Homo sapiens: one gene and its partner. The protein of the gene in region 1 purifies or fractionates together with the protein of each later gene. This does not show direct contact. Each region holds a gene or a part of one and is shown on either strand. Other genes may lie near its edges. The genes, in order: ZNF337 and SMARCAD1.

Region 1 (3,824 bases):
CCTAACTGTGAACTAAAACTGCTCCAAGAGAGAACAAGTCCACCCTAGAGGTAAGAATCATCATCATCATCATCATCATCATCATCATCATCATCATGAGTCCTGATGAACCACTGCGGTGACTACAGGGACTTAAGAGGGTGCACAATTCTAGACCACAGCCCCACTCAGGCAGTACATCTGGGGGAAATGGGGGAAGGAGGAAGGTGAAGTGACCTCTGGCAACAGTAGTACTGCTTAAAACATTAAACGACAAGGAAAAAAAGCTATGGGAATTGAAGAAGGAGAATAACGGACAGAGGTTTTAAGAAGCTAAAATAGAACTTAAACAAATTTACAAGAAAAAAAAAAACCCCATCAAAAAATGGGCAAAGGATATGAACAGACACTCCTCAAAAGAAGACATTTATGCAGCCAACAAACTTAGAAAAAATGCTCATCATCACTGGCCATCAGAGAAATGCAAATCAAAACCACAATGAGATACCATCTCATACCAGTTAGAATGGCAATCATTAAAAAGGAAACAACAGGTGCTGGAGAGGATGTGGAGAAATAGGAACACTTTTACACTGTTGGTGGGACTGTAAACTAGTTCAACCATTGTGGAAGTCAGTGTGGCGATTCCTCAGGGATCTAGAACTAGAAATACCATTTGACTCAGCCATCCCATTACCAGGTATATACCCAAAGGAATATAAATCATGCTGCTATAAAGACACATGCACACGTATGTTTATTGCAGCACTATACACAATAGCAAAGACTTGGAACCAACCCAAATGTCCAACAATGATAGACTGGATTAAGAAAATGTGGCACATATACACCATGGAATACTATGCAGCCGTAAAAAATGATGGGTTCATGTCCTTTACAGGGACATGGATGAAGTTGGAAACCATCATTCTCAGCAAACTATCTCAAGGACAAATAACCAAACACCGCATGTTCTCACTCATAGATGGGAATTGAACAATGAGAACACATGGACACAGGAAGGGGAACATCACACTCTGGGGACTGTTGTGGGGTGGGGGGAGGGGGGAGGGATAGCACTAGGAGATATACCTAATGCTAAATGACGAGTTAATGGGTGCAGCACACCAGCATGGCACATGTATACATATGTAACTAACCTGCACATTGTGCACATGTACCCTAAAACTTAAAGTATAATAATAATACAAATAAATAAAAAATATTAAAAAAAATTAAAAAAAGAGAAATGCAAATCAAAACCACAATGAGATACCATCTCACGCCAGTTAGAATGGCGATCATTAAAAAGTCAGGAAACAACAGATGCTTGAGAGGATGTGGAGAAATAGGAATGCTTTTCCTCTGTTGGTGGGAGTGTAAATTAGTTCAACCATTGTGGAAGACAGTGTGGCGATTCCTCAAGGATCTAGAACTAGAAATACCATTTGACCCGGCAATGCCATTACTGGGTATATACCCGAAGGATTATAAATCATTCTACTATAAAGACACATGCAGAGGTATGTTTACTGCAGCACTTTTCACAATAGCAAAGTCTTGGAACCAACCCAAATGCCCATCAATGATAGACTGGATAAAGAAAATGTGGCACATATATACCATAGAATACTATGTGGCCATAAAAAAGGATGAGTTCATGTCCTTTGCAGGATCATGGATGAAACTGGAAACCATCATTCTCAGCAGAGTAACACAAGAAGAGAAAAATCAAACACTATATGTTCTCACTCATAAGTGGGAGTTGAACCATGAAAACACATGGACACAGGGAGGGGAACATCACACACTGGGGCATGTTGGGGGGTAGGGGGCAGGGGAGAGGATAGCATTAGGAGAAACACCTAATGTAAATGACGAGTTGATGGATGTAGCAAACCAACATGGCACATGTATACCTATGTAACAAACCTGCATGTTGTGCACATATACCCCAGAACTTAAATTAAAAAAAAAAAAGAAAATCAGTATATAGAAGAATGAGATGCAAATTGTATCAAAAAATTTATATTTACTTACACAGAAAAATAATTAAAAAACAAAACAAAACAAAACAAAAAGAAGCTAAAATAGGAATACCTGGACAGTATCAGGAAGGGGCAATAGACTTAGGCTTGCAGTCGGGCAGTCACGAGGAAAGTCACAAATGAGGAGATTGAGTGGGAGAAAGAAGTCTAGCAAGTAGGGGGAAAGGAGGCTTCCTGGGAGAAGGAGTCCAGGGACCTCAGGAGAACCTCTCACTCAGCAAGGACTGGAAGGAAGGCAGGGCCAGGTGGTCTGAAGAGCAGCCAAGGAGGCCAGAACAGCTTCCAGGTCCCCTGGCCTCAGAGAAGCCTCCTCCCTCCTGAAAGGCGGAGTGCCTTGTGCTCTGTCTGCCCTGTCTATCCCCTCACCTGCACAGGGGCCTGGCCGGCGTCTTCTCTCTTCTCCCCAGGGCACTTCCCCTTGCTCTAGCCGCCTGATGAGTTCTGGTTTAGAATGGAGAATTCCTGCTCACAGGGAAAAAAACCATGAGGTGACTCCTGGTTGTAGGCTCCACGGGCCATTTGCTGGAGCCACCCAGGGCAGGAAGGGAGGGAGAATCAGAGGGGGAAGGCTCAGGAGGACCCTGTCTACCATGCTCAGAGTACAAACCCCCAGGGGGAGCCCCAGTGTGGGGAAAGGCCTGCAGGTGCCCAGTGGCAGTCAGTATGAAACTTTACCAAAGCCAGACCTTCCTCAGGGGAATAGAGAAAACAACATTCTTGTCTCTGAACCTAACCCTATGGCAACATCAGAGGCACCACAGGCCAAATGTTAGGCTCGAGGGAAGCCACGCTTACCTAGTGAGACCAGGTGGCTGTAGTTCTCCAGTGTCACCTCCCTGTACAGGGCCCTCTGAGCAGGGCTCAGCAGCCTCCATTCCTTCTGGGTGAAATCCACAGTGACATCCCCAAATGCCAAGAAAGCCTGTAACACAAAACCCAGGCATGCTCACCAGGGACAGTGTTGCACTCACGCAGTTGGAGGATTCCAGGTTCTGCCATCTGTACACAGATCACTACTTGATGAGTGACACCCACAGGCCAGTCACCTGCTGGAGGACGCCAGGAAAGACAGATCACTCCCCAGGAGCGGTGCTGGCCTTGGTCCTGTGCTAATAATGTAACTGCTAGGGCCAGTGAAGGAAATGGGCCCATCCTGTGACAGCAAGAACGACAGTTCTGGGAAGTCTCACCTGTCTCCTGGCTCCCTGAGGTCCCATGACTGTCTTCCTGCTCTCCACGGAGAAGGGAAGCTTGCAGATGGCCAATCTGTGGGAGGAGAGAAGTCAGAGGGTGGCTGGGTGCAGCTGCCCTCCCCATGTGTGACAGTTGGTGTGATTCCAATACCAACTGGGGATCTGGGGAGGGCGCACCTGCACAATTCCCCTGTGGGGATCTGGCCAAAAGGTCTAGGGAGCCAGGCTCCCTGCAAATCCAGGACAAGCTCATCTGGGAGTGAAGTGTGCCCCAGGAGCTGGGTGACGTTTGTTGCTTACATCACTGAGGGGCTAAAAGGATGAGGAACACCTGCAGATGAGGTCTTGCATTTAAGGTTAGGGCTCAGAGTTCCAGGTGTTCTTTGCACTGGACAGAATACACAAGAGCTGTCTGCCTCTTCTAGCCTCTGTCTCCCCGGGTTTGAAGTCAGGATAACCACAGGTGCAGACAAACTTGAGAAGGCCACAGGCAGATGGCATTGGCAGTTATTCAGTACTGTACAACACCAAAGCCTTTAACAAATTAATAGCATGGGGAGTGTGAGCTGTCAGGAATAAAAGTCCTCAGACACATGGTTAATCT
Region 2 (3,824 bases), on another chromosome or scaffold:
CGTCAAGAAAATGTTCAAAACACTAAGTTCTGGAAGAATGCAGAACAGACATAGGCTAATTCAAGCAAGTCAGTGTGCCAGAATTGCTTTAAGAAGTTAAAGTAATTGAGAAAATACAAAAGAAACGCCATTCTTTTTTAATACCTTCTGTTTCAATTCAGACAAGATGCATCCTAAAACTCGAAATTTTCCAGAATCTAAAATCAAGTCCATGTCTAACTGAAAGTTATTAATGTGTCGGTACTGTTTACAAAGTACATGTAGTTCGAAGTCTGTCATAACTTCCATATCTTCAAAGATCAGGTCAGGGTTAGCCTCACAATGTGTAGGTTCCTTAAAACAAAACAAAACACAGTATACTTCAAAATAAAAATAATTAATAATATGATGAGAAAAGTTTAATAAAACTGTTTATACCTGATAAAATATCTAAATCATAGAACCTTTTAGTGTAACAGACTTATCAAGGAAAATTAGTATTAATCTTTTAGGTATAATAAAGGGGGAGAAGTCCTTACTGTTTGAGAGATAACATACTAAAATATTTACAGATGAAATAACATCTAGAACTTGGTTCAAAATAACCCTGGGGAGAAGTCTGGGGTATAGATGAAACAAGGGTGGTGTTATTATCAAATGGTAACTTTCAAAGGGGTGAAGTAACATATGGGCAGTTTCATTATGCAATTCTACTTTTATAAATGTTTGAAATTCTCCATAAGTTTAAAATAATAAAAAAAAATTTAAAAAGAAATGGGTTGGTCAGGTGCAGTGGCTCACGCCTATAATCCCAGCACTTTGGGAAGCCGAGGTGGGTAAATCACCTAAGGTCAGGAGTTCGAGACCAGCCTGGCCAACGTGGTGAAACCCCATCTCTACTAAAAATACAAAAATTAGCTGGGCGTAGTGGTAGGTGCCTGTAATCCCAGCTACTCAGGATGCTGAGGCAGGACAATCACTTGAACCTGGGAGGCGGAGGGTGCAGTGAGCAGAGATCATGCCATCGCACTCCAGCCTGGGCGACAAGAGCAAAAGTCTATCTCAAAAAAAAAAGTAAAGAAAAGGAAGAAAATGGGTTGCTTTCAACCAAAGATCAGTAAGGATAAATAAGGTTAAAATGTTAAAGGAGAAAGAGGCAAAAATAAAGAGTAATTGCTAAAATTATAAAGAAATAAAATGAAAAAGAAGTGCATTATGGAAGTCTAGACTAGGAGTTAGCAAACTGTTCCTGTAAAGGGCCAGATCATATTTTAGGCTTTGTAGGCAAAATGACCTGTAAGGCAAGTACTCAACTCTGCCCCTGTAGTGAGAAAGCAGTCCCAGAAAACAAAAACAGGCATGACTGTGTTATAGTAAAACCTTATTTATAAAAATAGTCACTGCCGTAAGGCCATAGTTTGCTGACTTATAATGTAGGTTATCAGTCCTTCTTTGTTTTTATGTCCCCCAGATCATTTTGAACTTAGTCTAAAATGTGTTTTTCGTGTTTCAGTGCAGTGACTGATGCCTGTAATTCCAGCACTTTGGGAGGCCAAGGCGGGCGAATCGCTTGAGCTCAGGAGTTCAAGACCAGCCTGGGCAACATGGCAAAACCCCATCCGTACAAAAAAATTAGCCGGGCATGGTGGTGCGTGCCTGTAGTCCCAGCTATTCAGCAGGCCAACGCAGGAGGATGGCTTAAGCCTAGGAGGCAGAAGTTGCAGTGAGCCCAGACTGCCTGCCTTGGCAACAGAACCAGACCTGGTCTGAAAAAAAAAAGTTTTTCTTAAATATGTAGTTAAAGGTTTAGTATGCCCATTGGGTTCACCAATCTTATAGCCTAACAACTTAACCTCTTATTAAAGCTTAGTGTTAACATAATATGAAATCCTTACCTTTAGCATAAGCTGAGACATTTCCTTGAGTTTTTCAGCTGTGTAATATTGGCGATGTAATAAAGGATGATTGGCCATTTTCCTCAACTGCATCATGACATTGCACATTTCTGTGTTTTTTTCTGTGACTCAAAGAGAACACAGTAAAAAATAAAACCAAGCGGATAACTGTTGAAATATATCAACTAAGTTTTAAAATTATTTCCTCAAATTCCAGATAATTTTTTAAAATGCACAAATCCCATTATATGACTAAACAAAATGCATCCCCAGTACAAGATTCTTTTTCACATAAAAGAGTAAAAATCAGATTATACCCAAGTTATTGATAGATTTTTTCAATCTGTTGAAAAGACCCAAATAGAGTTGCTCCTGCTTCTCCGACATTGCACACAACTCAATTCGATCTTTCTTGGGGGGTAACTGCTTGAGAACCTGAGACAGAAAAAACAGTTTAAGATAATCATTCTAGTAAAGAGAAAAACCTAAGTTTTAAAAACAATAAAAATAAAAAACATGTAGATATGCATTACCTCTTCTTTTACTCTTCTGAGAATAAATGGCTTTATAATTTGTTTTGCATGTGCTATTCTCTCCTTTTCATATATGCTTTGCTCATCTGCTGATTTCTGAGCAAAATAAAAACATATCCTTTTAGGAATTATTCACTTAAATTATTGCAATAACAGTATTATTACACAACATAAAAATCTCCCTCATTAGAGTCTGAGTTATTTTCTGCAGAAACTTGATTCATTCTAGATGGCACTTCACATCTGAATTCTGGGCTGCCATGTACTTCTTGAAGCTCCATATGTATTTTGAAGTTTTATGATACGTAATCATGTTCTCTACTGAAGTAATCAATTTGAACTGTACCAGATGGGTGTTCAGAAGTCATCAACTGATGAGTCATGTATCGATTACCTAGATAACTCTCATTGAAAAATGTGTCTAAGTGTGGGTAAGGAGGAGCGTGGGGGGTAGAAAATCCTTTATTTCTTTGTGGAAAATGGCCCCAAAAGGAAGCTAGTGCAGACTGATGCAAATCACTTGGTCTAAAAATGGGGAATAGTGCTTAGTCAGAACTGGTGACTCTGGAGAATTAAGAAGTAGAATTTTATTCTAGGATGTGAAGGAGTCCTCCATATATTATGAACTGAAGATAGAAAATGGTTCATAAAATCTGCTAGGCCATTTAAAACACTGTACATTAAGTGGGAGGGAATTCAAATTAGTAAATGTTTAAAAGGCAGTTAATTTGCAGTGGACGAGTATCACAGAAAATTCTTGCAAAAGATTAGTGATGTGGAAGAGAGCCAAGAATCAGTGTAAACACTGCGGTATTGAAAAAACTGGGAGTTCTTGAAGACTATACTTTTCCTAAACAATAAAGAAGTAACAAAACTTTTCTTGTGAAGAGGATTTCTTTACTGTCGCTTTTAGTTGTGACTTTGGTTTTATGAACTTTTATTTCAGAATATATTTCTCAGCATAGGCATTTTCTGGATATTCTAGCTTTGTCTAGTTTTATAGTTTACCCATAAAGAAATGTTACTAATTTACGTAGCCAATTTTGATACAGATGATGTAATGATCAAACTTTCCGCACATACTATATATCTGAGCTCTTCATCAATTTAAAATCGTCATCCTTCAGAAAATTAGGATATTAACCAAGACTTCTGGCCATTGATTAGGGAAATTGCTATTTTCTTTCCCATTATATTTTGGCTGGTTTCCAAACCAATCCAAATATAGAGTTATCACCTACTTAAAGTTACTTCATAGAGCATATGCACTATGAAAACAACAAAAGAGACCTAACAGAAGAATGGCCCAGATAAAACACAAATAACATATTTGGGAGAAAATATGCATTTATGCTTACTGTCTTAGAGGAAAACATTCTTCGTATTTCACTGGTGCTACTACTAAACATGTGTGGCA

Evidence for each region.
Region 2: the proteins of ZNF337 (region 1) and SMARCAD1 purify together in Homo sapiens (co-immunoprecipitation; one large-scale study listed by IntAct). This does not show direct contact.

What each region holds. Positions count from the first base shown.
Region 1 is NC_000020.11:25,683,174-25,686,997, forward strand, and holds part of ZNF337 (zinc finger protein 337), read right to left. Parts: intron 3,785-3,824; exon of another isoform or gene 3,294-3,784; 5' UTR 3,245-3,293; coding exon 3,218-3,244; intron 2,950-3,217; coding exon 2,823-2,949; intron 2,490-2,822; coding exon 2,394-2,489; intron 1-2,393. UniProt on the Homo sapiens protein: May be involved in transcriptional regulation.
Region 2 is NC_000004.12:94,277,101-94,280,924, reverse strand, and holds part of SMARCAD1 (SWI/SNF-related matrix-associated actin-dependent regulator of chromatin subfamily A containing DEAD/H box 1), read right to left. Parts: coding exon 3,766-3,824; intron 2,504-3,765; coding exon 2,408-2,503; intron 2,310-2,407; coding exon 2,192-2,309; exon of another isoform or gene 2,003-2,191; coding exon of another isoform or gene 1,997-2,002; coding exon 1,875-1,996; intron 334-1,874; coding exon 145-333; intron 1-144. UniProt on the Homo sapiens protein: DNA helicase that possesses intrinsic ATP-dependent nucleosome-remodeling activity and is both required for DNA repair and heterochromatin organization.